Linked DNA regions of Homo sapiens: all the other regions are linked to region 3. The links come from fine-mapping of genetic effects on gene expression. A gene starts in region 3. Each other region holds a variant in brackets. All regions are shown on one strand. Distances are from middle to middle.

Region 1 (4,411 bases), 58 kb after region 3:
CTCAGTCTACTAATTTGGGTTGTGAACAGGAATATGGTTGTAAATGAAGACATGAAAGTTACATACACATAGGCATAGCATCTAAAAAAGCATTGGAACATTTTTATTCCGCCCTTGAAGCACTATGGAAGTTGCTTTTTTGCTGAAAACAAACCAGAAAAAAGAAAAAGAAACTGTGGTTTTCAAGACAGTGGAACACAAATTATGCAGCACTGTCATCCCCAAAAGAAAGGAAACAGACAATGTGAGCCGTGTTATTGCCCCAGTGTACTGCCTTGAAGCAGTTTCCACACTGCAGTGTAGGTGGGGAAAATGGAAACTGGGCCCAGCTGTCTCACTCAATTGAGAAGGCGGAAATCAGAATTTGGGGAGGTCAAGGAGGCTAAGATTTATGAGGCTGAGTACCAAAGAAGGAACCATAGAGAGAGCGTGCTAGGATGAGCACGAGCACTTCAGAGATTTGGAGCGGGGTCCCCTTGAGTCTTTGTCTGATTACAGAGTTGTATACACATAGGAGAACACTCTCTGAAACCAGGGGAAGAACTACCTGAAATGCAGTAGGTTGCACAATGCCTGGTGCTCACACAGGTGAGGGACTAGTTTGTGTTCCTAAGAGCCAGAGTAGAGAGACTTATAATACACAGGGTATTGGTTGGGGTTCTCAAAATGGTCATACCTAAATGGGTTAAATTAGTACCAGAATAAAGGATGCTATGGACCCACCATAACAAAGCTTAAAAGGAAGCCTTTAAAGAATCAAACTAATCCAAAAGTAATTTAGTTGCATTTTACAACAAAATCCAACACGCTTTATGCTACAACAAAATTCATCACCCAACAATGTACAATTTACAATGTCTGGCACCAATCAAAAACTACCAGGCATGGCCTGGTGCGGTGGCTCACGCCTGTAATCCCAGCACTTAGGGAGGCCAAGGCGGGTGGATCACGAGGTCAGGAGTTCGAGACCAACTTGACCAACATGGTGAAACCCTATCTCTACTAAAAATACAAAAATTAGCCAGGTGTGGTGGTGCACACCTGTAATCCCAGCTACTCAGGAGGCTGAGGCAGGAGAATCACTTGAACCTGGGAGGCAGAGGTTGCAGTAAGCCGAGATCACACCACTGGCACTCCAGCCTGGGTGACAGAGTGAGACTCCATCTCAAAAAAAAAAAAACAACTATCAGGCATAAAAAGAAACCAAAAAATAAAACACATAAGCCAGATATAGTGGTGTGTACCTGTAGTCCCAGCTACTTGAAAGCCTAAGTGGGAGGATTGCTTGAGCCCAAGAGTGTAAGACCAGCCTGGGCAATATAGTGAGACCCTATCTCAAATAAATAGATGGGTGGAAAGAAGGAAGGAAGGATGGATGGATGGATGGATGGATGGATGGATGGATGGATGGATAGATTTAAAAAAATAATAATTTAATAATTAATTACAATAAAAAATCAGGAGAAATCAATCAGAAACAAATTCAGAATGGATGGAAATGATGGGATTCATAAACAAAGACCTTAAAATGAGTATTATCAATCTTATTAGTAAACTTAAAGATGTAAAGGAAAGCTTGAACCCAATGAGGAAAGAAATAGATATCTAAAACAGACCAAAATGGAACTTCTGGAAATAAAAAAAAATTGGATGGTGTTAACAACAGATTAGATACTGCAAAAAAAAAAGGTCAATCAACTTGAAGACATAGCAATAGAAACTATCCAAAATGAAGCTCAAAGAGAAAGACAGATGGCGGGGTGAAAGTGAACAGAGCCTAACACGGTGAAAACCCATCTCTACTAAAAATACAAAAAATTAGTTGGGCATGGTGGCACGTGCCTGTAGTCCCAGTTACTCAGGAGGCTGAGGCAAGAAAATCACTTGAACCTGGGAGGCAGAGGTTGCAGTGAGCTGAGATCATGCCACTGTACTCCAGCCTGGGCAACAGAGCGAGACTCTGTCTCAAAAAAGAAAAAAAGAAAAAAAAGAA[A/G]GTGAACAGAGCTTCAGTGAGCCACCGGACAATATCAAGCAATCTAATTAGAATCCGAGAAGAAAAAGGGAGAGAAAAAAATATGTAAAGAAATAGTGAAATTTTTAGTAAATTTAATGAAAAACATAAACACACAGAAAGCAATAGCGAAAATTGCTGGGCGCAGTGACTCAACGCCTGTAATCCTAGCACTTTGGGAGGCTGAGGTGGGTGGATCACCTGAGGTCAGGAGTTCGAAACCAGCCTGGCCAACGTGGCAAAACCCCATCTCTCCTAAAAATACAAAGATTAGTTGGGCATGGTGGCAGGCGCCTGTAATCCCAGCTACTTGGGAGGCCAAGACAGGAGAATTGCTTAAACCACAGAAGCGGACATTGCAGTGAGCCAAGATCGCGCCACTGCACTCCAGCCTGGGCAACAGAGTGAGACTCCATCTCAAAAAAAAAAAAATTGACTCTTTACAGCAAAAATAATGACAGCATTTTATGAGGCTATAACATGTGGAAGTAAAATGTATGACAACAGTAGTACAAAGGATGGGGTGGAAGGATGGAAGAATACTGTTGTAAGGTCCTTATATTATCCATGAAATTATAATTTGAAGGTAGACTGTGGTAAGTTAAAGATATATGCTGCAAATTCTAGAGCAAACACTGAAAAAAATAAAAGAGATAGATACAGCTAACAAGCTCTATCTCCGAATGGCAATACTGATAAGAACAAAATTCTGACATATGCTACAACATGGAAAATGGTAAATGCGGATGGTAATAATATCAACGTTGGCATCAGAACAAGAAATAGAACCAGAGATAGAGGGACTTTTTATGATGATAAAGCGATCTACTTACAAAGAAGACATAATCCTAAATGTTTATACTTGTAATAGTAGAGCTTGAAAATAAGTAAAACTGAGAGAATTGGAAGGAAAAATTGACGTATTTACAATCATAGTTGGAGGTTTCAACAAGAAACTTTAATGTAATCATTTCAAAATACTCAGTTAATCCAAAAGTGAGCAGGAAAGGAGGGGAAAATGAGCAAAGGGTAGATGGGGCAAATAGAACACAAATAATGAAGTGGTAGATTTAAACTCAACCAGACTGATGATTGTATTACTATAAATGGGCTGAGTGTGCCAATAAAAGGTGGAGATGGACAAATTGGATAGAAAAGCAAGAACCAATCATATGCTGTCTGCAATAAACCACTTTAAATAAAAAGATCCAGGTAGGTTAAAAATATTAATACAAGGATGAAATTGAAAGCAGAGTCTTGAAGAGATATTTGTACATCCATGTTCATAGCAGTATTATTCACAAGAGCCAAAATACAGAAGCAACCCAAGAGTCCATCAGTATACAAGTGGATAAATAGAATGTGGTATATATATACACAATGGAATATTATTCTGTCTTTAAAAGGAAAGAAATTCTGACACATGCTACAACATGGATGAATCTTGAAGATATGCCAAGTGAAATAAGCCAGCCACAGAAAGACATACTATGTGATTCTACTAATATCCCATACCCTACAGTGGTCCAGTTCATAGAGACAGAAAGTAGAGTGGTAGTTGTTGGGGAAGGAAGAATAGGGAGTTGTTTAATTGGTACAGTTTCAGTTTTTGCAGGATGAAAATATCGTAGAGATTGGTTGCACAAGGATGTAAATGCACTTAACACTACTAAGCTGTACACTTTAAAATGGTAAAGATGCTAATTTTTATGTTATATATATTTTACCACATTTTTTAAACAGTAAAAGGATGGAAATGATATGCTACATTAACACTAATCAAGAGAAATCTGGGTGGTAATAATATCAGAATAGGCTTCAGAACAAGAAATAGAACCAGGGATAAAGACAGACTTTTTATGATGACAAAGTGATCTACTCATGAAGAAGACATAATCCTAAATATTTATACTTCTAATAATAGAGCTTGAAAGTAAGTGAAGTAAAACTAAGAGAATTGAAAGGAGAAATTGACATATTCACAATCATAGTTGGAGGTTTCAACACTCCTTTCTCAGCAGTTGGTAGAACAGGTTTACAGAAAATCAAAAAAGATGCGGAAGACTTAACAGTGAAACCAGTTTGAGCTAATAGACATTTATAAAACACTCCTTCCATCAAGCGCAGAATTCTTACTCTTTTTAAGTACACATGAAAATTAACCAAATATAGACCATATTCTGGTTCATAAAACAATTCTCATTAAATTTAAAAGGGTTGGAATCATATAGAGTACGTTCTCTGGCCACAATGGAATTAAACAGAAATCAACAGAAAGATACCTGGAAAGTCTCAAATATTTCAAAATTGAACAACCCATGAGTAAAACAAGAAGTCACAAGAAAAATTAGAAAATATTTTGAACTGAGTGAAAATAACATATCAAAATTTGTGAGATAT
Region 2 (4,411 bases), 40 kb after region 3:
CCTTGCTTGGACTGCATAGAATACAGCCTGAGAGGGAAACCTGTGATTTAGTTTCTCTCTTTACCCACACAGGAGAACACTTCTGACAAGATGCCATTCGTGCTCACCGTAGTTGGTCAGAAACTGCGGCTCTGTGCTTGGCAAAAGTTAATTTGGATTTTAGATGCTGTGTGCAAGGAAACCATGTGCAGTTTTAAGCAAGGATCTTCACTGAAATTTCTCGCTGCAATCAACTACGCAGAGTGCCCAGCTCTCAGCATTTGACACAGTTGGCCACTCTTCCCTTGTCTCTCATGGCATCGTGATTTCCTGGGATACCTTTGGTCTCTTTGTCCATAGCATTCTCTATCTGGGGTACACTCACAATAGGCAGAGGAAAAACATGGTAACCAGGGTGGCTGCTGCAACATATTTGAGGGGGTCAGGGTAGGCAATGAGGTCCGAGAGGTAGCCAGGAGTTAGCTCATGTAGGACTTTGTAGGCCACTTGAGGACTGGCCTGATCTGGCTGATGGGAAACCCATAGAGGATTTTGAGTAGAAGAGTGATATGATCCAACCTGAATTTTAATGAGATCTCTTTGGCCTCTCTGTGGACTAGTTGCTGTGAAGTGGGGAAGGCTGAAGGAGGCAGACACCAATTAGGAAGCTATCAATACTTAATCCAGGTGAAAGATGACAGTGGCTTGGACCAAGATGGTGACACCAAATGAGGCAGAGAGAGATCAATTTCTAGATAGGTTTCTTTTGTTTTGTTTTGTTTTGTTTTTTGAGACAGAGTCTCGCTCTGTCACCCCGCCCAGAGTGTAGTGGTGTGATCTCAGCTCACTGCAAGCTCCGCCTCCCGGGTTCACGCCATTCTCCTGCCTCAGCCTTCCGATTAGCTGGTACTACAGGCGCCCGCCACCACACCAGCTAATTCTTTTGTATTTTTAGTAGAGACGGGGTTTCACCATGTTAGCCAGGATGGTCTTGATCTCCTGACCTCGGTGTTCCGCCCACTTTGGCCTCCCAAAGTGCTGGGATTACAAACGTGAGCCACCGCACCCGGCCCCTCTAGATAGGTTTCTAAGTAGAGATGACATGTGTAGCTGACAGCTTGGAGGAAAGTTGTGCAAAAGAGAGGAGTCACAAAACAGTCCAGGGTTTTGGTCTCAGCCACTAGAAAACTGGTGTTACCATTTACTGATTTGGAGAAGACCATGGAAAGGAAGTTTGGGGGGTGGGAATCAGGAGTTTAATTTGGACATATTAAATTTGAGATGATGCCAATTACATCCAAGCAAAGTTGAATAGGCTGTGTGTGTGTGTGTGTGTGTGTGTGTGTGTGTGTGTGTGTGTGTGTACAGGTGTCATCAGCATTTGAAACTGAGTGAGGTCACCAAGAGAAGGAATGTTAAATAGATACGCAGTCAGAGAAATGATCTGGGCTCTTAATCATATAGAGGTCAGGAGAACCAGGGAAGGAGCAGTCAATGAGATAAGAGAATCAAGAGGGAGAGGCATTCCAAAAGCCAAACTGTTAAAAAACAAAAAAAAAGGTTTTAGCAGGGAGTAACTTTCAAAGGTTTTAGATAGGGCAATAAGACAAGATTTGAGAATTAACCATGGAGGTCATTGCATTCCTTAACAAAAACAGTTTCTATGGAGTAACGGAGATGAAAGCCTAAATTGGATTTATCCAAGAGAACAGAAGAGGAGAGAAATTGGACACAGTGTGTACAGACAGTTCTTTCAAGATTGATAAAATAAAGGAGGACAAAGGGGCCAGAGCTGCAGGGAGATGCAGGGTCAAGGTTTTTTTTCTCTAAACCTGGGATATAAATATAAATATGTATGTTTATATTGCTGCTGGTGGTAATTCAGTAGTGAGTGAAAAATTCAGAAGAGGGAGAATTGCTGGATCAATAAATGTCCTTAGGTAGGCAAGAGATGAGATGCAATGTGCAGTGGAGAGGTTCATCCTGGAGAGGGATGCAGACAGACACTTTCTACATAGGAGTGCAGGGAAAGCAGAATGGGCACAGATGCAGGGAGGTGGGTAGCTATGGTGTCTGGACATAGGGAGGTTCTCTTCTCATTGCTTCTGTTTTCTC[G/A]GTGAAATAAGCAGCTCAGTCATTAGCTGGGAGTGAGAAACCAGAGGAAGTGGAAATTTGAGGTTAGAGAGGAAGGTTTAAACTAGTCCTCTAGGGAAATGGAAAGCAGATGGATTAGGGCAATGTGGGTGGATTGCTAGACAGCATTAAGAGTCCCTTTAAGGTTAGTGACCATACATTTAAGGCGAAAATAGTCAGTGGGATTGTGTGCTTTTGTCCAGCTGTGGTCAGCCACCCTGGTGGAGATGCATAGTGGATAGAGAATTGAATTTAACCAGGATAGAGGTTCCAGGTGAAGGCCCTGAAGGGAGAGGCAAGAGAGCTGATTGTGTATGCAAGGGGGTGAGTATAATGGTGGCCTATGGGGTTTAGTCTGAGTAAGGCAAATGAAGACATGCTGGGATTTTAGTTTCTGATGCAGCTTAGGGATCAGTGAACTCAGGGTTTTGGAGGATATTGGAAAGCTAAGAGGTGGTCAATTAGGGAGTAGAGAAGCCTGAAACTACGATTCTGGAGTGGGTGCAGGTACTGATGATTGGGTCTAGAGCTAGTGATTCTCAACTGGGGGGATTTCACCTCTGAGGAGGCATTTGCAATGTCTGGAGACATTTTTGGTTGTCACAACTGGAGGCAGAGGAGATACTGCTGTCATCTAGTAGAGGCCAGGGGTGCTGCTCAACATCCTACAAGGTATAGCACAGTTTCCCACAACAAAGGATTGTCTGTGGCAGTTGTCAGTAGTGCTGAGGTTGAGAAGCCCTGGTTTAGGGTATAAAAGAAAAACTTCAGCTGAATTAAATTTAAAGGAGTTTAACTGAACAAAGAATGAACTGCGAATTGGGCAGCCTTCTGAGCCAAGGTAGGCTCAGAGACGCCAGCGCAGCCACGTGGCGGAAGAAGATTTATGGACAGAAAAAGGAAAGTGATGTACAGAAAACGGGAGTGAGGTACAGAAACAGCTGCATTGATTATAGCTCAGCATTTGCCTTACTTGAACACAATTTGAACAGTTGGCTACATTTGATTGGCCAAAACTCGGTGCTTGGCCCAAGGTGATTGGCTACGGCCTGTTTACACCTACACTTGTTATAGTTCACAGTGTACAGAAAAACCCTTAGGCTGAACTTAAAATATGTAAGGAGGCAGCTTTAGGCTAAACTTGATTGAACAGGTATGACCATAGAAATGAGTGGCTGGGGTAGGCCTGATCTTACCCAGATTATTGGAGAAGATAAACAGACTAGGGTTTTAGAAGGTTTATCTTACAACTGATGAAATCTCCAAAAATGATGACAAGAGTAGTATTAGAGAAAAGTGTAGATAGCCAGGGATGGGAGGAAGTTAATTTCTCAGTGTGTGGCATCATTTTCTTTTTCTTGAGCTAGCTGATGGGCTAGCTTTGGATTTCATAATCCTGGCTAAGAGCTACACGTTCAGATTAGCCAAAGAGTGTTGTGTGTTTTTTAAAAAGCCACCTGTTTATTACCTAACTTTGGTATAATGAAATCTGTGTCTTAAATAGATGCCTAAAAGCCATTTGGGAATTTGGTTAGTCTTTTTGCTCAAAATTCTGTGACTGTAAACTTGGACACTTGGTCTAATTCCATCTTTAAATAATGTCTCGGGATGACAAGTCTTGCAGCTAGGCCTCGAGGAAGGGATCTGGTTTAAGAAAATCCTTGAAGAAGGCTGGGTGCGGTGGCTCACGCCTGTAATCCCAGCACTTTGGGGGGGCCGGGGCTGGTGAATCACCTGAGGTCAGGAGTTCGAGACCAGCCTGGGCAACATGGTGAAACCCCGTCTCTACTAAAAATACAAAAATTAGCTGGGCGTCGTGGTGGGTGTCTGTAATCCCAGCTACTCGGGAGGCTGAGGCAGGAGAATTGCTTGAACCCAGGAGGCGGAGGTTGCAACACTGCACTCCAGCCTGAGTGACAAGATTGAGACTCGGTCTCAAAAAAAAAAAAAAGAAAGAAAGAAAAGAAAATCCTTGAGAAACTTTATTTATAGACTTTTAGAGACTGTGGCTTTCCAGTACTCATCACCATGGAGAAAACTAGTCAAAATCACACAGAGTGAATAAGGGTTGCAAGCCAGTGCTGCTTCCTGGAATAAGCTGGTCCACTAGTCTAGTCTTGTGCTTTGTCCTTCATTTTGAACTCAAGTGCCCTGGGGCTGCTTTTCTGCGTACCCACAATAGCAAGGAACTCTTTTGTTTGCATCTCCTCTGAAAGAAATGCTTGTTTTGAGGTTTGGACCGCAAATAATAATCTATTGTTCCCTGTAATAATAATCCACCCTCTTTCGCAGAAAAAAA
Region 3 (4,411 bases):
CGTTCTCTGAGTTTGCTTTTCCTGTTTTCTCTCTGGTGAATTATTCATCTTTTAAAGTTCACCTTAAATGTTTTATCCTTGGTGAATCTTTCTAGATGCTTCTTGGGCCAGTGGATTTTAGGAGAGCGAGGTATATGTGGCTGAGGTACATCACAATCAGCAGAGAAGCTTTAAACACTGCTGAGAGTCACTGTCCCTGCTGGCCTTGGGTTTCTTCTTTATTCACTCTTCCTTTTTTTGAGACGGAGTCTCGCCCTGTCGCCCAGGCTGGAGTGCAATGGCGCGTGATCTCGTCTCACTGCAACCTCTGCCTCCCAGGTTCTGTAGCAGGATGAGCCGCAGACAAAACTCCTCAGACACGGAGTTAAAGAAGGAAGGGGTTTATTCGGCCGGAAGTATCGGCAAGCCTCCTGTCTCAAGAGCCTAGCTCCCCGAGTGAGCAATTCCTGTCCCTTTTAAGGGCTCACAACTCTAAGGGGGTCCGCGTGAGAGGGTCATGATCAATTGAGCAAGCAGAGGGTACTGTGAATGGGGGCTGCATGCACCGGTAATCAGAACGAAACAGAACAGGACAGGGATTTTTACAATGCCTTTCCATATAATGTCTGGAATCCATAGATAACATAACCGGTTAGGTCAGGGGTCGATCTTTAACTACCGGGCTTAGGTCAGGCAGGCCCAGGCCTGGTTTCGGGTCTGGTTCTTAGGCGCCGGGTTACCTGCCTTTAATTTCGCTTCTCTTTCCTTTTCTGAGTATAAAACTATATGAGAGGTTCTGTCTCTCTTCTCTCAGTTCAAGCGATTCTCCTGCCTCAGCCACCCGAGTAGCTGGGTACAGTCACGCGCCACCCATGCCCGGCTAATTTTTTTGTATCTTTTAGTAGAGATGGGGTTTCACTACGCTGGCCAGGCTGGTCTCAAACTCCTGACCTCGTGATCTGCCCGCCTCGGCCTCCCGAAGTGCTGGGATTACAAGTGTGAGCCACCGCACCCGGCCCTCATTTTTACAAATGTAATTGAGTACTTGTTTGTGTACACTAGTAGACGATGTGCTTCTTGAGAGTAAAGCCCAGGTGTTCTACATCCATGGTTCAATTAATGCATTGGTATCTTTTCCAACCTATGGCATTTGAGATACAACTTCAAAAGGATCTGCTGACAGAAATAGGGCAAAGTGGTTCTGGTATTTTTTTTTTTTAAGTTTTTTTCTCACTAATGTTCTTATGATTTCGCTGTACTGCAATGTTAGCTGAAACAGCACAGATATCAGGAATGGCATTGTTAAGACTGACCTTAGACAAAAACCCTGAAGTGAGAGGTTACATTTTGGGTTCTCACCATACTCTTCCCCCGCTCTTGTCCTAATTGTCTAAAGCTTGCTTCCCTTCCTCATCGTATCAGCCTCCCACCTGAATCTTCCCTTTTCCTCCTTCACACTCATCTTTCTTGTGCCCCTGTCCCCCATTTTTCCCTTTTGTAAGCCATTTTCATAAGGATCCTTCCAAATATTTCCCCTATTGATTGGACAACCCGTAGGTGGCAGACTGTTCTGGGCCAAGGCAACCAAGTTGAGCAGGGCCAGCAATCAGTGTCGGGAACTTCTGCAGGGCACTTCAGAATCAGTGTTGGGAACTTCTGCTTTCTATTTTTCACGGACACAGACAGGAACACAGATATGCGAAAGCAAAACAATCAAAAAGCATTTTCATTTGTTTTTCAGGTAGTAGGAAAGAGTTCCAGATTCCCATCCTTCTGAAGCCAGGAGGGAGGTTCCTAAGAGGAGGTTAGGGCAAGATGGAGACTTCTTTTTAAACTAGTAGATTTCGCAAATTGCAACACATACATTATCTAGTCCACGCAAAGGACAGGCCTTGGGGACACGGCACGGGGAACGTGTTCCACCTGGACGACTGAATCAGAAGTCTCTCCCCCATCAATTGAACGCCTCATTATTTTTCTTTCTGTCTTTTCTTTCTTTTTAAGGTAAATGAATTGCTTCTTTTTCGTTAGGTGAGGCCGGCAGAGAACAAGAAGAGCTGAAACGGAGGCGAGGTTAGTACCCAGCAAAGACCTGTGGCGAGGAGAGACAATGAAGAGGACCACGGGACTGGACCCTGAGAAAGGCAGAGGAGACGCTGGCTGGTGGGGCCCGCAGGCGGACAGCCACGCAGGCAGGCGGAAGGCTCGGCTCGGCCTGGGACCGCTGCAGACCCGGCCTCCGCGCGGGGCCGAGGCGCCTGGGTGGGACCGAGGAGGCGGGGCCTTCCCGGCGGACGGATGATGGACAGCCTGACTCTCCAATCGCGTCCTTAAAAGGGTGCGGGCAGGCCAATGAGCGGACAGCGAGGGCCGGAGTGGGGCTGAGGCTTCGGTGCAGAGCTGGAGAGCCGCGGCTGGGACCGGAGTGGGGAGCGCGGCGTGGAGGTGCCACCCGGCGCGGGTGGCGGAGAGATCAGAAGCCTCTTCCCCAAGCCGAGCCAACCTCAGCGGGGACCCGGGCTCAGGGACGCGGCGGCGGCGGCGGCGACTGCAGTGGCTGGACGATGGCAGCGTCCGCCGGAGCCGGGGCGGTGATTGCAGCCCCAGACAGCCGGCGCTGGCTGTGGTCGGTGCTGGCGGCGGCGCTTGGGCTCTGTAAGTGATGCCAGGACCAGGGCTGGGGCCGGGGAGTGGGGCCCCCGGGCCCGACACACGCCCATCGCGGCGGTCGCAGGCCAGGCGCGCGCACTGAGAGCCGAGGTGGGGAGGGGGCGCGGCCTGCGCTCTCTGGGGCCGAGGGGACCCAGCCCATGGGGAACGCGGGCCTCCGCGACTGGCCGGGAAGGCGCAGAGCCTCTTTCTTCTCTTTCCTGGATCCTGGAGTGCGGAGGAGGAGGGGAGAGTGCTTTACCTTGCTCCTTCCCGGGGGGCGGTCCAGGGGAGCGGACCCGGCGGGCGGCTGCGGTGAGCCCTCGCGGCGCACCCTGCCCTCTCCTCGTGGTGACTCTGGATCGTCTAGGCCCTCCCGGATTCTGACTCAGGAACTAGGGTTCTGGCGTTCTTCACCTTTGGGAGGTGGCGGAAAGTTGCAGGTTTTTCATTTGTAGGGCCTTTGTTGATTTGTTTCCTGTTAAGCCAGGGTTTTGTTGTAAGTTCCCTTTCCCATGCTCTCATTCAGTTTTAAGTCTCCGTAATAAAAGAGTCTCATTTCCGTGGTCTGCAAAACGCCAATAAAAAAATATTGTTACTTCTAGGTTAGAATGCAAAGAGCTTGGAATACCAGTGAGATGGCCTGGCTTAAAAGAATTTGGTCAAATCCATCATAATTCCAGACGTAGCCACCATAATTTGACAAGACATAGAGCATTAAAAAGCATAATTTTCCTAAAGGAAAAAAAAAGCTCCTTTTTCTTACCAAATATTGTGACTCAAGCTTAAGGTAAACCTCGGGCTCAATTTATGGGAATTGGATGACTTGTTTTATGGACATCTGAAGTGGTATCTGCCACAGGACTTTTCTGTGTTGTTGTTCAAAGCAAAGTACTTGTTGCTGTCTCCGAATTTAGTTAAATAATAGTTATAAAGAGGGCCAGCTGCTAAGAAACCACGTAGATTTTTTTCATTCCCTTTGTTTTCAAAATGTCAGTTATGATTTAGCATCACAGTATCTGAATACCAGAGTTTACTCAGTAATTTCTTTCTTCATGGAAAAGTTCTTAATATAATCCTTGGATCAGGGAAACTAGGTGAAGTTCTGTTGGATCACCAACTGTTCCACTTAAACAGTGATTCCAGGGGCTGTAAAGCATAAATGTAAAAGTCTCCCTACCCTCCAGGGGTTGACAGATGATGACACACTTTGTGTAAGACACAATCCATTCTGTATTTTGTCTTAGAAAAAAAGGTTAAAAGTGTGTTTGTTGGTGGTGGTATTTGTGTTTAATCAAACAAGTAGAAAATAGCCTAAAATTAAGGTTTATCAGAAATATGCTTCAGACAGAATTGTTATGCATGAGAGGTCAGACATTGCTATGGAGGACAAAGCAGTTAGGGTGATCTTAATTAAAATCAGGGTATTAAACGTAGAAGGAGTGCAAAACTACATAGTAGTGAAAAGATCACTAGAGTAATAGCCCCATACAACTTGGACGTAACTCTTCAGTAATGAAGATGAATGTTGATATGTAAAAATCAGCAGCTGATGTTATTGGTTCAACTTAGAAAATTATTGAATCTAAAATTCTTGCCAAATCACCTCTTTTCTGGTCATGGATACTGCACATAAGAGTTTATCTTTTACAGGATAGCTTCTAAAGTTTTATCAAGACAGTTACTCAGCAAACATTCACTGAGCACCTTTTAAGTGCTTAACACTTAAAAGGTGGGAGGTTAGGTCTCACTGTGTTGCCCAGGCTGCTCTGGAACTGAAACT
Region 4 (4,411 bases), 70 kb after region 3:
CTAATGCTGTTGCATACATGAAGCCTTTTGTTTTTTGAGGAGCTATTTTTGTTATTCTTGTAACGCTCCACCTTACATGCCACATCTGTGTGAGTCAACAGGGATCAGGTTTGGTCACCACACATGTCTGAAGCTGGGCAGCGTCTGCTCTGTGTTCTGTGTGGAATGGAGAAAAAAACGCCTGCCCTGCTGCCTTCCATGTTCATAGGCCCAGCCCAAGAGAGTGACACACAGTGCTGGCCCTGAGACATTTCCACAAAGTGGTCAACTCTGCCTTGCATCCTAAAACTTTTTGGGCATCTATTTTGAAAACTATAGGAGCCTTTGGAAGGCCTCTTATGTTTGGAGGGGAAGGGTGTTGAGATTGTCACCATCCTTCAAGCTGAGACTCCTGGTGAGCCTTTGCCACCATGAAAACCACATAGCTGACCAGGGCTGTGCTTGAGGTACAGAGGACACACATTGTAGACAGGCCTGTGTCATGTTTCCTTACAGTCGTTTTTTACAGAGAAAAGGGGCATTGTTTTTTCACTGCTTTCTCAACAGTTCCTGTGAATAAATGAAACATTTCGGAGCTCCCTGAGAGCAAGAGCCTTCACTTCTTCTTGCGGTGCCGGGACCATGTGTTGGTGAAGCTGGTGCTGTGGGGGCCACTCACTCGAATGACACCTGGAGGCCTGTTCCTCCCTTACCACTCCCTTCCCCAGCCCGACTTCTTGGCCTCCTGCCCAACCAGACACCTCAAACTCTGTCAGTGCCCTGGCATTCTGGCAGAGAATCCTCACCAGTTCTCACCAACCTTCCCCCCAGGCAAGGGCAGCTGCCAGCATGGTGCTCTGCCAGGACAGGTTTCCCTGAAGGAAGCTGCTCACACTGAGATGAGCCTCTCAGGGCAGGACCTCTTCCCAAGCCCTGCACACCCACCCCTGCAGCCCTTTTGGCTCCCCTTTTCCCTGTGCCTCAGCACTCCTTTCCTGGTTGCAGATAACGAACTAAGGTTGCCTAAAGGGCAGATCTGCCCTCTCCATGTCTTCGTCCTGGCAAACAGGGTCGTCTTAAAATTATGCGCTAATTCTGTATGGGAGCACTCAAAAGGCATTACTTAGAGATTGAAATTTCAAACTATCTCTAGTTTTTCAATGGAAATATATCAGCTAGGGAAAAACCATCAAGCTCATTATTATTTTTTGATCTTCAGTTGTATTTTTGTGAATATTTTAATACATCTTTTTCAATTTCTGAATTGTGTTGTGTGCTCATTTTGACCAGAATAGAAAAAGAGATATGCCTTTCACTCATATCATTCCAGCTACACCTGCCTTCTTTTCTTCAAAAATGCCGTCCGTGTGCCTGCTTCTGGGCCTTTGCACATGCTGTTCCCTGGGCCTGAAGCATGCCTTCTGCCAATATTCCTGTGGTTTGCTCTCTGACTTCCTTTAAGCCTCTGCTCAAATGTTACCTCCTCAGGGAGACCTTCTGTGATATATAAAAGAGCAAGCCCCCCACCCCACCGCCTCAGCCTTCCTGGCCCCCTCAGTTCTGCTCTAGTTACTCTATTTCTCTCCCTCTTTCCCAGTACACACTTGTCTGTTCTCCCGCATTAGAACATAGTTAACAAGAGACCAGAACCTTGCTGTTTTGTTCACTGCTCCGTCTGCAGTAAAGGGAACAGCACCTGGCACTTAGCTGCTCAATACATGTTACGTGGATGGATGAGTAGGTGGAAGCATTCATCCATTCAGCAACCTACACTGAGAACAATCCTGTGCCAAGCACTGTGCTAAGCATAAGGAAACAAAACAAGACAAAGCTCCTCAAGGAGCTTGCCACAGGGTGGAGGTGACAGGTGACATGAATGGAAGTAACTAGTAGTTACCAAATACTTGGTGTGAGCCAGGCACTTTGCATTTCTTTCTCTATTATTTCTGTGAGTTAACAGTAATTGTACTAATCTTAATCCCATTGTTTGAAAGATTATATGGCTTACCCAGGGCCACTTAGCTAATAAAGGAACAGAGAAGAGGGGCTGGGCCTGGGGCCGCTGTTTGATCCACAGCCTTGTTCCTAACCACTATGCCCTGTGGCCTCTCACACCAAAAGGAAGTACCAAACTGCTTCCTTACTCAAATAAATGTGCTGAAATGCAGTTGCAGTTTTCTCCCAGTCCCTTAGGAGCTGGTTAGAGAGTCCCTTAGGAACTTGAGAGGGTAGTGTAGTCTAGGTGGTAGGCACAGATGTCTGAGAGCTTTAACCTCAGTCTGGAAGACAATGTGGTGACTTAATTTGTTGAGAACTATGTTACAAATAATGTGTTACTAATAAAACATTGAGGCTTCGCAGTGACTTAGTAATTTTATAAATTACCATGGATTCACAATGAGCCCCTGCCTTGCATAACTTTGGGCTTGCAAAACCTAATGCGTTCTTGAGTGGGAGAAGATGAGTTACAGCTGGCAGGAACTCCCCTGGGAGTAATTCTCACATGTGAACAGCATCCATCTTGCGTGATGTGACAAAAAGAAAAGGGATGCTTCCTTCACCACACAAGGGCAGCAGTGAGTGATGGAATCACATTTTTGTCATCTCTGCAATTCCTTCCAAGTCAGCACTAAGTGTCGGAGGGCATCCACCT[G/C]CTGGGGCTCTGGTTTCCAAGCTACATAGGGGCCTTGCCAACCAAAGATGGACTTTTTATTTATGAGAGCAGCTTCCACCCCTGAGGGAGCTGAGTTGAGCAGTGTTTAGAGGAAACTCAGATACTCTCTCACCCCAGTTGGCTCCCTTCTGACCCCTCTGGGTAGTTCCTGTGCTAACTGGACTGGGGAACCACTGACTTCATCCTCCCACTGTGCAGGAAAGGCGAGGGAGCAGCCACGGGGAGGAAAGTGGCATCTGTGGTATTGGTAGAGCTGGTGGTAGGAGCCAACCATCTGCTTTTATGGCGGGTTCTCCCCTGCACTTTCCTCTTGCATAGTCAAGATATTGTATGAACAATTTCAATATATTTTGTTTTTTTGTAGAATTACTTTAATGAAATTACCCTTTGATATAATTTGAAAAAAATTTTTTTTTGAGACAGTCTTGCTCTGTCATCCAGGCTGGAGTGCAGTGGCATGATCTTGCCTCACTGCAACCTCCACCTCCTAGGTTCCAGCGATTCTCCCACCTCAGCCTCCCCAGTAGCTGGCATTACAGGCACGCGCCACCACACCCGGCTAATTTTTTGTATTTTTAGTAGAGATGCCCGCCTCAGTCTCCCAAAATGCTGGGATTACCGGTGTGAGCCACTAGGCCCAGCCCCTTTGACATAATTCTATCAGCCTACATTGAAGTATGTCATAAAAAAGAGTCCTAGGAAACTAGCTACTTATTGTACTTTACTGCCAGCATGGCTTTGAGAACGTTATTCCCTGTCATACATTTTTCAATGTTATAAAGACCCACAGCACAAATATCTCTCTGGATTTAATACCAGATGATATGGTTGAGATCTGTGTCGCAGCCTAAATCTGTCGAATTGTGATACCCAGCATTGGAGGTGAGGCCTGGTGGGAGGTGATTGGATCACAGTGGGTAGATTTCTAATGAATGGTTTAGCACCGTCCTCCTTGGTACTGTTCTCGTGATTGTGAGTTCTCATGGGACCTGTTTGTTTAAAAGTATGCAGCACCCTCCCACTCTGCTCTCTCGCTCCTCCTCCCGCCACGTGAGACGCCTCATGAGAAGCCTCACTACCCCTTTGCCTTCCGCCATATTTGGAAGCTTTCTGGGGCCTCACCAGAAGCCAAAGACGCTATGCTTCCTGTGTAACCTGCAGAACGGTGAGCCAATTAAACCTCTTTTCTTCATAAATTACCCAGTCTTGGGGTTTTGTTTTTGTTTGTTTTTTGTTTGTTTGTTTGTTTTTTGAGATGGAGTCTCACTCTGTCGCCCAGGCTGGAGTGTAGTAGCACGATCTCGGCTCACTGCAACCTCCACCTCCTGGGTTCAAGCGATTCCCCTGCCTCAGCCTCCTGGGTAGCTGGGATTACAGGCATGCGCCACCATTCCCGGCTAATTTTTTTTTGTATTGTAGCGGAGATAGGGTTTCACCATGTTGGCCAGGCTGGTCTCGAACTCCTGACCTCAGGTGATCTGCCCGCCTTGGCCTCCCAAAGTGCTGGGATTACAGGCGTGAGCCACCACACCTGGCCTTCAGTCCCAGGTATCTTTTATAGCAGCGTGAAAACAAGTAATACACCAGGAAAACTGTTTCTTATGAATATTTTGTTTCAAACTAGTCATGTGCACTGACTTGTCACTGATTGTATTTGTCTCTTTGCTTTTGCTATTCTCTAGGTCCTAGCCAAATTTGTGGGTCACTTTCTACCACTGTACACAGATTGTACACTCCATATACACTTTGTACATTAAC
Region 5 (4,411 bases), 50 kb after region 3:
GGGACTTGCGGGGCAAGAGAAACAAACACATGCTTTCTGCTCATAAGGTTCTTTGTTTCTGAGTCTTCTTCATGGGAGTGAAGATTTCACAGGAGTCCGTGTCTTCTGTCAGCACCTATGAACCTGTGGCCAACTAACTTTGTTAGCTTGTAAGTAGGGTAAAATCTCAGACCCTTCACGGTTCTTAACAAGCATTTAGGTCATATGAAATGCAGGGTAAATATTTGATAAATGTTATAATAATAACCATTATTCTTTATCAGTGATCATTTAGGCATTGTGGAAGATGATGAGTTAGACATACCAGTTAAGAGGCCATAGTCCAAGATGATGAAAACATAAAAACAGATATTGTCAGTGGGAACCGAATAGAGAGAAGAGAGAACTGAGAGAAACTAATGAGACATTGACAATATTGGGGGATTAACTGGATAGGAAGAAAGAGAATCAAGGATGACTTCAAGATTTATGGTTTTGGAAAGAAACAGTAGCCATCAGTGAAGACACGATACATGAAGAGGGGAAGATGAAGTTTGTAAGAGAGGGTGACAAGCTTGGGGGAGAGGGGCAGCCAGGTGGTAAAGTGAGTAGGCAAGGAGTCTAGAGCTTAGGGGACGCTATTGATGGAGAGAGAGGTTTGGGAGTTAAGAAAATCTAGATGATCATTAAATCATAGGAATGGATGAGTCTGCACTGGGGTTTTCACCGTGCTCAAAGGGTTCTGAAAATGTTCTGTTTGAATTGCTAATAGAGCTGGTTTCTATCCCCAGCTCCACCATCACCCCGTCCATTAACCAGAACAAAGACATCAGGCCTCCAGCATAGCTGCTTGGATTAGAGCCAAGTGTGAGGATAGATCCCCTCCCACTGGGCCTTAACCCTGCTTCCAGGTGCTGAGTTTGACAAGGTTTACTTTGAGAAGACAGTTCCTTTGCTGAAAGCAGGACTGAGGAGAGACTGAGGAGTGGAAAGAGAAAGGGGCTAAAGGCTGAACTTTCAAAAGCCGGCAAGAGTATCTTGTGTTATCTGGGCTTTGTTCCTTTCACACACCCATGACTTTTCCATAGGAAACCAGAAGGAAGAGGGCGAAACTCAGATTAGCTGATCTGAGATATTTAGGATTCTTCTCCTTTGTGCTTCTGTGTATCTTAGTGGTAAGCTAACTCAACACTAAGCTTTCTGAAGCCTTGGGAATCACTGGGCTCAATCATGGTGTTACTGGAAGAACATTGGCTTTGAAGACTCAGATGGGCCTAAATTTTACTCTGGGTCCCCAATTTACTATCATTGGTACCTTGGGAAAATGGCTTCTCTTAAGTCTCCATTTTGTCTTTTATAAAATTATGGGTGGTAATAATTATATCAATGAAATATTGAGAGGATTAGAGGTGATATATGAGTCTGATTCTTCCATTGAAACCTGGCAGGGTTGAGTGCCGTGATCTCTAAACTTCTGTCTGGCTTAGATTCCATAACTTGTGATTTGTAATATGATGTTGCATTTCTTTTTTTTTTTTTTTTTAATTGATCATTCTTGGGTGTTTCTCGGAGAGGGGGATGTGGCAGGGTCATAGGATAATAGTGGAGAGAAGGTCAACACGTGAACAAAGGTCTCTGGTTTTCCTAGGCAGAGGTCCCTGCGGCCTTCCGCAGTGTTTGTGTCCCTGGGTACTTGAGATTAGGGAGTGGTGATGACTCTTAACGAGTATGCTGCCTTCAAGCATCTGTTTAACAAAGCACATCTTGCACCGCCCTTAATCCATTTCACCCTGAGTTGACACAGCACATGTTTCAGAGAGCATGGGGTTGGGGGTAAGGTTTATAGATTAACAGCATCCCAAGGCAGAAGAATTTTTCTTAGTACAGAACAAAATGGAGTCTCCTATGTCTACTTCTTTCTACACAGACACAGTAACAATCTGATCTCTCTTTCTTTTCCCCACATTTCCCCCTTTTCTTTTTGACAAAACCGCCATCGTCATCATGGCCCGTTCTCAATGGTCGCTGTCTCTTCGGAGCTGTTGGGTACACGTGCAGAAAGGCTGTCACTTCACACTTGGAAGATTGCACAGCGGCCAGGCAGAGGCGCTCCTCACTTCCCAGACGGGGTGGTGGCCGGGCAGAGGCGCTCCTCACTTCCCAGACAGGGTGGCCGGGCAGAGGGGCTCCTCACATCCCAGAGGATGGGCGGCCAGGCAGAGACGCTCCTCACTTCCTAGATGGGGTGGCAGCTGGGCAGAGGCTGTAATCTTAGTACTTTGGGAGACCAAGGCAGGTGGCTGGGAGGTGGAGGTTGCAGCGAGCCGAGATCACACCACTGCACTCCAGCCTGGGCAGCATTGAGCATTGAGTGAGCAAGACTCCATCTGCAAACCCAGCACCTTGGGAGGCTGAGGCAGGCAGAACACTCCAGGTCAGGAGCTGGAGGCCAGCCCGGTCAACACGGCAAAACCCCTCTCCACCAAAAATACAAAAACCAGTCAGGCGTGGCCGCACGTGCCTGCAATCCCAGGCAGTCGGCAGCCCGAGGCAGGAGAATCACAGGAGCCCGAGGCAGGGAGGTTGCAGCGAGCCAAGATCACGGCAGTACAGTCCAGCCTCAGCAACAGAGGGAGACCGAAAAAAGGAGGAGAGAGA[G/A]GGGGAGAGGGAGAGGGAGAGAGATGTTGCATTTCTTTCCGTATGAAGTCTTTAAAAGAACCTTTCATAGCATGCACATTACAGAGTTTAGGAATTCTGCCTTTGAGAATAGTTCATGTGTTCCTTTTTTCTAATTGCAGTTTTTCCACTACTCCCAAGGGCAAGTGTACCTTGGGAATTATCCACCATTTAAAGACAGAATCAGCTGGGCTGGAGACCTTGACAAGAAAGATGCATCAATCAACATAGAAAATATGCAGTTTATACACAATGGCACCTATATCTGTGATGTCAAAAACCCTCCTGACATCGTTGTCCAGCCTGGACACATTAGGCTCTATGTCGTAGAAAAAGGTACTTCCTTGAGTATTTTGGCAGTAATAATGCAGTCTCCTTTATCTCATGTTTGGTTGGAAAACATGAGTTGCATTTCATGGTGGGTTTGGAGGGAGGATTTTTGCCATACAGTTGTGCTCCCTGTTGCCACGAACCTGTGGCTCTACCAAACACACTTGGAGCTGGGAAACTTGTTGCTCATTCTGACCCAGAGTGGCTGATTTCTCCATTTTTATTCCTACCGTCTGGTGCCTATTGGTCTAATTTCAGGAGTATGAATTTTTCAGTGTTAATTAGAAGAAAGACCAAATTCATTATGTTTGGATGTGATGGGCAGTGGGAAAGAAGGAGATTCATACTGTTTTATATTCTCCAGGAGAAAGCTTTCAACAACAGCACAGTTATTTCTTCCTTTTGATTTTGAGAACAAACAGGAAATGCAGGTTCTGGTGTCTCATTTTTGAGACAAAGTCTGTTTTGTTGGAGAGTAGATCCAGGTAAATTCACACCTCCGGTTTTTCTTTAGAGCACTGAGAGGGATTGTAGGTGTAGAAATGCTTAGTTCCATAGTTCATTCTTTCTCATCTAATATTCACATGTCATGAATTACATAGTAATAGGATAGATAGTAGGATCTCATAGTTTGGATAATAAAAGAGGGTACGGTAACTGCTAAATGAAGATACTTGCTCGTTAATTTAATAAAATTCCATGTTTTCTCTCTGTAGCAATGTACCTTAAAACTATTTTGTTCTTTCTCTCTAGAGAATTTGCCTGTGTTTCCAGTTTGGGTAGTGGTGGGCATAGTTACTGCTGTGGTCCTAGGTCTCACTCTGCTCATCAGCATGATTCTGGCTGTCCTCTATAGAAGGAAAAACTCTAAACGGGATTACACTGGGTAAGAAACACTGTTTTTTTAGGGCAGGGGTGGAGGGAGGGAATCAGGGTTTATAGAAACTTCTGTATTTAATGAAAAAAGGATTTTAAAGAATTAACTACTATTTTCTTTCATGTCAGAATCAGGCAGTCTCCTTAGGAGGTGTTCTAACATGGGCAAGTGGAAATCAGTGGGCCTGCTATTAAATGTGGAATATGATTCTAATCTCTGTTCCAGTTTCCTTCTTAGGTTTGGTGAGATGAGCTGCTCAGCAGTCTGTGCTCTGTGTTTCAATACCATCCACTATGCAATTAGTATTCTTAAGACATCACTTACCCAATTTAAGAGTTTAATTTCAATTTCTTGCTAATAAACTCACAAGGTGGTTCTTTCCAGTTAGGAAATATAAAACCCTAATTAAGAAGTTGTGAGCTGGAATTAGTGGCATGTGCCTGTAAGTCCCAGCTACTTAGGCTGTGGCAGGAGGATTGCTTGAGCCGAGGCGTTTGAATCTAGCCTAGGCAACATAGCAAGATCCTGTCTCTTTAAAAAAAAAAAAAA
Region 6 (4,411 bases), 23 kb after region 3:
AAAAATTAGCCAGGCGTGGTGGCCCTCACCTGTAGTCCCAGCTACTCGGGAGGTTGAGGCAGGAGAATCACTTTAACCTGGGAGGCGGAGGTTGCAGTGAGCAGAGATCATGCCACTGCACTTCAGCCTGGGTGACAGAGCAAGACAAAAAAAAGAAAAAAAAATCTTTGATCTTATCAAATTGTTCTTGTTTTCCATAATATCAAAAACCCGGCATATAAATATATAACAAGTATAAGAGTGTATCGCCTAACTATATTATGGGCAGATACCTTAATAGTATCTTTCAAATAAAAAAGATACTTGCCAACTTTTAAAATAAATATATATGGAGTGCCTGAGGGAATTTCTTAAGGAGTCCATAGTCTATCATCAGTCTACCATAATCAGAATAGGAACTATAGTTTATTTTGGAATGGATTGTGAAGATTTTCTCTCACTCTGTGGGTTGTCTGTTTACTCTGCTGACTGTTCCTTTTGCCACACAAAAGCTCTTTAGTTTAAGTCCCAGCTATTTATCTTTGTTTTTGTTGCATTTGCTTTTGGGTCTTGGTCATGAAGTCTTTGCGTAAGCTAATGTCTAGAAGGGTTTTTCCAATGTTCTCTTCTAGAATTTTTATAGTTTCAGGTCTTAGATTTAAGTCCTTGATCTATCTTGAGTTGATTTTTGTATAAGGTGAGAGATGAGGATCCAGTTTCATTCTCCTACATGTGGCTAGCCAATTATCCCAGCACCAGTTGTTGAATAGGGTGTCCTTTCCCCACTTGATGTTTTTGTTTGCTTTGTCAATGATCAGTAGGCTGTAAGTATTTGGGTTTATTTTTGGGTTCTCTATTTTGTTCCTTTGGTCTATGTGCCTATTTTTATTACAGTACCAGGCTGCTTTGATGACTGTGGCCTTATAGTATGGTTTGAAATCAGGTAATGTGATGTCTCCAGATTGTATGCAGGCTCTTTTTTGGTTCCATATGAATTTTAGGATTGTTTTTTCTAGTTCTGTGAAAACTGATGGTGGTATTTTGATGGGAATTGCGTTGAATTTGTAGATTACTTTTGGCAGTATCATCATTTTCACTTTTTTTTTTTCTTCGAGACAGAGTCTCGCTCTGTCGCCAGGCTGGATTGCAATGGCGTGATCTTGCCTGACTGCAACCTCTGCCTCCTGGGTTCAAGCAATTCTCCTGCCTCAGCCTCCCAAGTAGCTGGGACTACAGGCGCACATCACGCCCAGCTAATTTTTGTATTTTTAGTAGAGACGGGGTTTCACCATGTTAGCCAGGCTGGTCTCGATCTCTTGACCTCGTGACCCTCCCGCCTCGGCCTCCCAAAGTACTGAGATTACAGGCGTGAGCCACCGCGCCTGGCCTTCGCAATATTAATTCTTCCTATCCGTGAGCATGGGATGTGTTTCCTTTTGTTTATGTCATCTGTGATTTCTTTCAGCAGTGTTCTGTAGTTTTCCTTGTAGAAGTGTTTCACCTCCTTGGTTAGGTATATTCCTAAGTATTTTGTTTTACTTTTTTTGCAGCTATTGTAGAAGGGGTTGAGTTCTTGATTTGATTCTCAGCTTGGTTGCTGTTGGTGTATAGAAGAGCTACTGATTTGTTTACATTAATTTTGCATCTGGAAACTGCTGAATTCTTTTATCAGTTCTGGGAGCTTTCTGGAGGAGTCTTTAGGGTTTTCTAGGTAAACAGTCTTATCATCAGCAAACAACAACAGTTTGACTTCCTCTTTACTGATTTGGATGCCCTTTATTTCTTTCTCTTGTCTGATTTCTCGGGCTAGGACTTCCAATACTTTGTTGAAGAGAAGTGGTAAGAGTGGGCATCTTTGTCCTATTCCAGTTCTCAGAGGGACTGCTTTCAACTTTTCCCTATTCATTATTATGTTGGCTGTGGGTTTGTCATAGATGGCTTTTATTACATTGAGGTATGTAATGGACAGGCATTCTAAGCCCTTTACAAATATTAACTCATTTCATTCTTGTAATAACTCTTTGAAGTCGGTACTATTAGAATAAACTTAAAAGTATGAGAAACTGAGGCATGGAGGGCTTTTTGCACAAGGTCCCACATCACTCTTTCTTGTCTCGGGTAACCCTGTGATTCACATAGTTGCAGACCACATAGTCACACC[G/A]GAAGTTTTTCAGGAAACCTTTCTAGACATCTTGTTAAAAACTTACAAAGGGGACAACTTTTGATGTGTAAAACAATTAGGAAGCATGTCCAGAGTCTAAGTGTTCTTTAAAAACCAAAAAAAGGCCGGGCACAGTGGCTCATGCCTGTAATCCCAGCACTTTGGGAGGCCAAGACGGGTGGATCACCTGAGGTCAGGAGTTTGAGACCAGCCTGGCCAACATGGCAAACCCCTGTCTCTACTAAAAATACAAAAATTAGTGGGCCATGGTCGTGTGCGTCTATAATCCCAGCTACTTGGGAGGCTGAGGCAGGAGAAACACTTGAACCCGGGGGTCAGAGGTTGCAGTGAGCCGAGATCGCACCACTTCACTCCAGCCTGGGCGAAAGAGCGAAACTCAGTCTCAAAAAAAAAAAAAAAAAGAACCTCCAAATAGCAGTTTGCCCATTTTCTCCTTCCAAGTTCACATATAGACCTTAATAAAAGTTATAGACTCCAACAACTAGTAAATATTTTTTTCCACTTGTTTCGTTAAATTTATTTCCATTAAATTGGGAGTAAGATCAAAACAGAATAATGTTTACTGTCATCAGTTTAAGAATAAATGTTGTGCTTACTCCGCAGAGGCGGATGGATCCACTACTTCTCCCCCCACTGCAAAATTTGGTTAAGATGTGGAAACTGATGATACCATATGTGCACCAGGACGGTACGAAAAGGGTTTATGACTCACTTACTGAGGCTTTTTGGGGAGAGCAGGGCAGGCTTCCCATGCAGGTACAAGAATGGCTTGAGAAAGCAGGAAAAGGATACTGGCTCTCCTTTTATGGTGATAAGTTGCTGAGTCTGGAGTGAAGGTCCTTATATGCCCCTTCAGCCAGGTCTTGGTTTGAACTTCCCACCTGTTCCAAAGGATGGCTCACTTGGGCTTTCTTATTAGCTTGCCCTGAGGAAAGGGGTACAGCTTGAAAGCTCTTGGCAGTCAAATATCAAAAATGATGTCAGACTCTTTATTACAAATATATTTTTAAGTGCTTGTCATTGTTTATGTTATGGGGCAAAAATCTTGCATTGTACTAAACACCATGTCACTAATAGTGTGAATAGAAGATTCAGCAGACTAATGTCAAGAATGTTTTTGGAACCTTGAACACAGGGAATATCCTGTGTGTCTTTTAAAAACACGGAAAATACTTAACATCTCTATTTTGTTTGGGTTAACACTGATGATGCTGAAATGTTGGGTATTGATTGCCTGGGTCACTATGGGCAAAGAAGCTTTTTTTGTTTTTGTTTAGTTTTATGATATTACTGATTTCTGTGTTTTGTCATATTCTTTTTGTATTTTATTAAACATGTTTTTAATAAATGGGCACTCTTATTTTCAAACTTAATAAATAGGACTCATTTTACTATGCATATCCTGGGTTTTAAATTCTGAGCTAAGAAACAAGAGATAGAAGAACCAAATTTGGGTAAAATTCAGAGTCTTAGATGCCAGAAGCCAGGGAGACGCTGGAAAACAATTATTGAGATGTGTTATAGGTTAACTGATAGTTGGAAGACAACATGCCTTTCAGGTTTGTGGTTTACTGCCTTTCATTAATTCTGACACAGTTTTTAATATTTTAATATCTCTGATATTGGGATATGCCTTACAATTGTTGGCGAGTCATAGCCAGCATTTTTATTTCTTGGGGACACAGAAAATAATGTGTCTTACCCTCAGTGGTGTCTTCAATTACATGAACTATGACAATTTTTACACCTTTATAAGTCTTTTAAAATAAAAAATTCATTTATACTTCAGAAAAAATACCTATGATTAGACCACGAGTTAGGGGAGACTTTGCAGTGGTGATTGCCTTGGAGTTGCCTTGAAGGAAGAGTGGGAGTTGGCCCAACGGGAGTGGGTTGGTGGAGAAGGCATTCAGACTGAGAGATAGCATATACAGCATATTATAAAGAGTGTGCTGTGTTGGGGAAAGGGCTAGAAGTTTGATGTGGCAAAAATGTAGGCTCTGGGATGAGATGAGAATGATAAACTGGCTGGAATGGTAACCTGGAGCCAGCCTTTGAAAGGCTCTGTGTGCCGTGCGAGGGAGTTGAGGCTGTCTTGGCATGTTAGGCAGCATTGTAAAGCAGCTCTCCCTCCCTGTTTGCATCAGCAAAGGGGTGGGCAGCATTGGCACCAATAACAGAAGAGTGAAGACAATACATATGTCGAATAAGATCTCTAGCACAGAGTTCTCCAAAATGGAAAGGGCTGCA
Region 7 (4,411 bases), 470 kb after region 3:
GCAACCTCTGCCCCGCGGGTTCAAGCGATTCTCCTGCCTCAGCCTCCTGAGTAGCTGGGATTACAGGTGCCTGCCACCACGATCAGCTAGTTTTTGTATTTTTAGTAGAGATGGGGTTTCACCATATTGGCTAGGCTGGTCTCAAACTCCTGACCTCAAGTGATCCGGCCGCCTTGCCTCCCAAAGTGCTGGGATTATAGGCATAAGCCACCGCGCCCAGCCCATATGTTTTATATTTAGCTGGTTATTTTTTTTTTGTTGTATTTTTTAGATCCCTGGGTTCAGAGAGAGATATGTGGAGTTGAGGAAGAGAGCTGAAAAGTATAAAGTTTTAGACATATTTAGCCTTGCAAATGGAGACAATAGCATAAATAAGTTAAATATGATATCTCTAACTCATGCTTTGTTTTTTGACTTTGTCTTTCATTTTATAAGAACAAGTACGTAAATGGAAAAACTGACAGATTCATTTTGACCAATCACTTACTGAAGGCATATGTGAAACATTAATGAAGCAATTTACTAATGAGAAAATTCAGATAATGATTAATTTTGGGGGATTCAGGAGTATCTATAAGGAGGATGTTAAAAATGTGTTCCTCTGAACTAAAATCAAATAAAAAGGACGAAATTTACAAGTGTGTGTATTTAACACTAATTTCAGTTGTGTAACCTTAGGCAGTCCTCGTTGGCAGACCAACTTTTGTTTAACTAGATCATAAACTTAATGTGTGATGCAGGGGACTGGTTATATGCCCTGCCCCTACACTCCAACTCCCTTCCCCTCCCAGTTTTCACCTCAAGAGTGGCCTTATACCTGCTCCGTACACAGTTGGAAGTAAAACTGCTTAGGGCTAAGTGTTATCTCTAAGTGACCATGGAAGAATTATGGACATTTTTTTACCTCCTGGAAATCATATACAAACTGCCACTTTCTTTTCATGGCATCTTTTCCCCCTACATTACTTAACGTTCCCTTAGATTTCCTCCCAAAATCTGTGCAGTCTTGTAAACAACATCCTTTGTAATTTTCTTCTGATTCTTATCTAGTTATCTCAAATTACTCTCCATCTGCTAATTTTGTCCATGAGTCAAAACAAATCACCTAATCATGACGCTTAAGTAAAGCTACATTTACTAAATATCTATGGTTTGACAAGCATTGTTGTGTTTGTTTATGGTAAACCTGTCAAGGAGTAAAACAGCTGAGCATTTTGTAGTGAAATTAGGTGTGGTAGAAAATAGTATCACAATTCATACTTGGGTGCTGCTCAGGAGACACTTGAGTTTAATGAGCTCCTGATATGATCTGCCTTGGGACTGTTGATGCTTTTGTTGGATTACGTGTGTGCATGTCTTAGAGCTACAAAATAATACCTTGAAAAATTGCCAACTTCATTCAAAGCTCTTTGCAATGCTAAGAGTTTCCCTCAGAATTTCTCTACAAGTTCTTGTTTACCTCATTATTTAAAGCACTTTATTTTGTTGTAGGTTTTGGGGAGTTAGGTTGAGCAAATATCTAACATTCTAATGGAAAAATATTTTTTAAGTTCCATATGAATGTCCTAAAAGTGGCTTTCACAGCACAAATGTTCTATGACCTTCTATGATAGCAGTCGTTCATCACACTGACTGATGTTTAGTTGATTAATTTTCTCATAGTCACAACAGAAGTTGATTTTAATATGACTTGCATGAAAAATGATAAATTTTTACTGCTTTTTTTGTGAAGCTATAATATTGGGCATCTGTAATGTCTTCAGTTTTCAGAATCAAGCCATATTCTGATCTTTTATATCTACTAATGACACCCAAATTTAGAACTGTGTGCTCTGGCTATGTAGAAAAGACTGATTGAAAAAGAAAAGAAAAGACTGCTTTCCTGTGTCTCTGTAGCTCCTCAACTTTTTTTTTAATGTGCTCCTCTTTAAAATTTTTTCTTTCAGGTTGTACCTACAACAGATCATATAGATACAGAAAAATTGAAAGCCAGAGAACAGATTAAGTTTTTTGAAGAAGTTCTCCTTTTTGAGGATGAACTTCATGATCATGGAGTTTCAAGCCTGAGTGTGAAGATTGTGAGTATTATTTTTATTTAAAATTAATATTTTTCTTGCATTCTTAACATCAGACAAAAATATGACTCACTTTGAATAACACTGAGCCTGGCCGGGCGCGGTGGCTCACGCCTGTAATCCCAGCACTTTGAGAGGCTGAGGCGGGCTGGATCGCCAGGTCAGGAGACCGAGACCATCCTGGCTAACACAGTGAAACCCCGTCTCTACTAAAAACACAAAAAGTTAGCTGGGCATGGTGGCGGGCGCCTGTAGTCCCAGCTACTCGGGAGGCTGAGGCAGGAGAGTAGCGTGAACCCAAGAGGCGGAGCTTGCAGTGAGCCAGGATCACGCCACTGCACTCCAGCCTGGGCGACAGAGC[A/G]AAAAAAAAAAAAAAAAAAAAAGAATAACACTGAGCTTTAACATGATGTCATGTACAATTTCACTTGAATCTAGAGTGTATCTTATTGAATATCCATTATAAAATTCACAAAATATTTGTGTATTCTTAAGGCTTTATTTTAGCAAAGCATTTTTAATAGACCTGCCTGGCCACCTTGTAGTTTATTTGTTTATTATTTAACTCTAATGAAGACTGTGGCTTAATTTTCACATTTTGGATTAAAAATGATGTTGATAGGATCTGCAGACGGCAAGGTGGATGTCATTTTTTAAAATGATCCATGTGTTATGATTTCAGTGCATCATTCAACTACCACTTCAATTTTCAGCCTGGTGGCGGGCACCTGTAGTCCCAGCTACTCGGGAGGCTGAGGCAGGAGAAGCGTGAACCCGGGAGGCGGAGCTTGCAGTGAGCTGAGATCGCACCACTGCACTCCAGCCCTCCAGCCTGGGCGACAGAGCAAGACTCCGTCTCAAAAAAAAAAAATAAAATAAAATAAAAGAAGTAGAAAACACACATAACAAGTATGGTTATTCATATTTCTTTACCACTGCATTATAATTGGGTCTCTAATACTTTCCAGAAATAACTCAACTGAAACTTTTTACTAAATGCCTCATTCTTTAAGACCCAAAGACCCAGCTAAAATACCACCTTTTCTACAAGGCCCTTCACAACTCCGTTACACAGAGTTAAATATCTCTTTTCTATACTCCTTTTTAAAAACCTCTCAATTAGGCCGGGCGCGGTGGCCCATGCCTGTAATCCCAGCACTTTGGGAGGCCGAGGCGGGCGGATCACGAGGTCAGGAGATCGAGACCATGGTGAAACCCCGTCTCTACTAAAAATACAAAAAATTAGCTGGGCGCAGTGGCGGGCGCCTGTAGTCCCAGCTACCCGGGAGGCTGAGGCAGGAGAATGGCGTGAACCCGGAAGGCAGAGCTTGCAGTGAGCCGAGATCGTGCCACTGCACTCCAGCCTGGGCAACAAGCGAGACTCCGTCTCAAAACAAACAAACAAACAAACAAAACAAACAAAAAACCTCTCAATTATAGCATTTGTCATGAGATCTGTCAAAGACAGAGACCCTAACATCAAACATTGTTCTTGGGGCATAATGATTGTGGATGCTGTGATTTAAAGAATGAAAATAATACAAAAGCAGCAACAGATTTGTTTTAAAGTCAAATTTTAGCTACTTGGGAGGCAGAAGCAGGAGGATTGCTTGAGCCCAGGAGGTCAAGGCTACAGTGAGCTATGATGGTGCCACTGCACCCCAGCTTGGGAGACAAAATAATTTTATTTTTAGATAAATAAAAAATTTTATTTTTCTTATCTAAAAATAAAATTAGTTTTTTCGGTGGAATCAAAGGATTTTGAAATTGTAGTGAATTTTTAGAGAATCATTTTTTGTAGCCTCCATATTTTATAGATAAGGCCTAAAAAGATAGCTTAAGGTCATGAAACTAATTGCAAAGTTTTCTTTGTATCATCTAATATATATCATTATTCTAGCATTAGATAGTTGTTTTCATAGGCTTTACTTCTTTGCTCACTTATAACTCTAAATTCACTTTTTTTTGTTTAGATTTATTCTCTCTTCAGTTCACCTAGTCTTGTATCTTTCCACTTGTCTACCACCTGTTGAATTGACTATGCTAAATGTTCATTATGAGTTTGCATACCTGGGTGTGCATTTGTATCCAAGGGGGTATATATATCATGTCTATAAGTGGGTCGGTATTTGGAAAGCACATGTGGTTTTGTGGATGGAGTTGCTTGAAAGGATATGTGTATAAATATGTGTGTACAAGAATACATAGTAAGTCTTAAACTGAAGAGCATTTTTTTAACCAACTACTTTAAGCTGAAGTATTAGTTCATAGATATTACTATCCTGTAGTGAAATTTGTAGATGATTTAATCCACCTACTTTGCAGCAATCAACATATTT

Direction of the effects. Positions count from the first base shown, and alleles are read on the strand shown. Sizes are in standard deviations (SD) of each study's normalised expression. Not every link is listed here.
For the expression in fibroblasts of the gene that starts at base 2,374 in region 3, C is the high allele of the variant in region 4 and G is the other (moderate effect, 0.50 SD a copy in GTEx).
As copies of G replace A in region 6, the expression in NK cells of the gene that starts at base 2,374 in region 3 goes up (large effect, 0.86 SD a copy in Schmiedel 2018).

Evidence for each region. PIP is the estimated chance that this variant, and not a neighbour inherited with it, causes the effect.
Region 1: its variant is fine-mapped to the expression of MPZL1 in whole blood (TOPMed, PIP above 0.99).
Region 2: its variant is fine-mapped to the expression of MPZL1 in whole blood (TOPMed, PIP above 0.99).
Region 4: its variant is fine-mapped to the expression of MPZL1 in fibroblasts (GTEx, PIP above 0.99).
Region 5: its variant is fine-mapped to the expression of MPZL1 in lung (TOPMed, PIP above 0.99).
Region 6: its variant is fine-mapped to the expression of MPZL1 in NK cells (Schmiedel 2018, PIP 0.95).
Region 7: its variant is fine-mapped to the expression of MPZL1 in lymphoblastoid cells (GENCORD, PIP 0.95).

What each region holds. Positions count from the first base shown.
Region 1 is chr1:167,777,155-167,781,565 of GRCh38, forward strand. All of the region lies in intron 5 of MPZL1 (myelin protein zero like 1), which reads left to right. Among named protein-coding and RNA genes, the nearest start is that of MPZL1, 57 kb to the left of the region's middle. The variant A/G (reference allele first, on the strand shown) is at 1,994.
Region 2 is chr1:167,759,452-167,763,862 of GRCh38, forward strand. All of the region lies in intron 1 of MPZL1 (myelin protein zero like 1), which reads left to right. Among named protein-coding and RNA genes, the nearest start is that of MPZL1, 40 kb to the left of the region's middle. The variant G/A (reference allele first, on the strand shown) is at 2,095.
Region 3 is chr1:167,719,609-167,724,019 of GRCh38, forward strand. MPZL1 (myelin protein zero like 1) reads left to right here and starts at 2,374. Exons shown (of 6, transcript NM_003953.6): 1 at 2,374-2,634. The coding sequence starts at 2,544. RefSeq lists enhancers at 1-475, 2,702-3,202 and silencers at 2,014-2,383, 2,774-2,843, 2,874-3,013.
Region 4 is chr1:167,789,581-167,793,991 of GRCh38, forward strand. MPZL1 (myelin protein zero like 1) reads left to right here. Exons shown (of 6, transcript NM_003953.6): 6 at 1-2,339. Among named protein-coding and RNA genes, the nearest start is that of MPZL1, 70 kb to the left of the region's middle. RefSeq lists a silencer at 3,003-3,151. The variant G/C (reference allele first, on the strand shown) is at 2,633.
Region 5 is chr1:167,769,498-167,773,908 of GRCh38, forward strand. MPZL1 (myelin protein zero like 1) reads left to right here. Exons shown (of 6, transcript NM_003953.6): 3 at 2,778-2,991; 4 at 3,739-3,871. Among named protein-coding and RNA genes, the nearest start is that of MPZL1, 50 kb to the left of the region's middle. RefSeq lists enhancers at 503-1,074, 2,009-2,510. The variant G/A (reference allele first, on the strand shown) is at 2,638.
Region 6 is chr1:167,742,139-167,746,549 of GRCh38, forward strand. The region is part of intron 1 of MPZL1 (myelin protein zero like 1); the gene reads left to right. Among named protein-coding and RNA genes, the nearest start is that of MPZL1, 22 kb to the left of the region's middle. The variant G/A (reference allele first, on the strand shown) is at 2,141.
Region 7 is chr1:168,189,423-168,193,833 of GRCh38, forward strand. TIPRL (TOR signaling pathway regulator) reads left to right here. Exons shown (of 7, transcript NM_152902.5): 4 at 1,947-2,078. Among named protein-coding and RNA genes, the nearest start is that of TIPRL, 13 kb to the left of the region's middle. The variant A/G (reference allele first, on the strand shown) is at 2,437.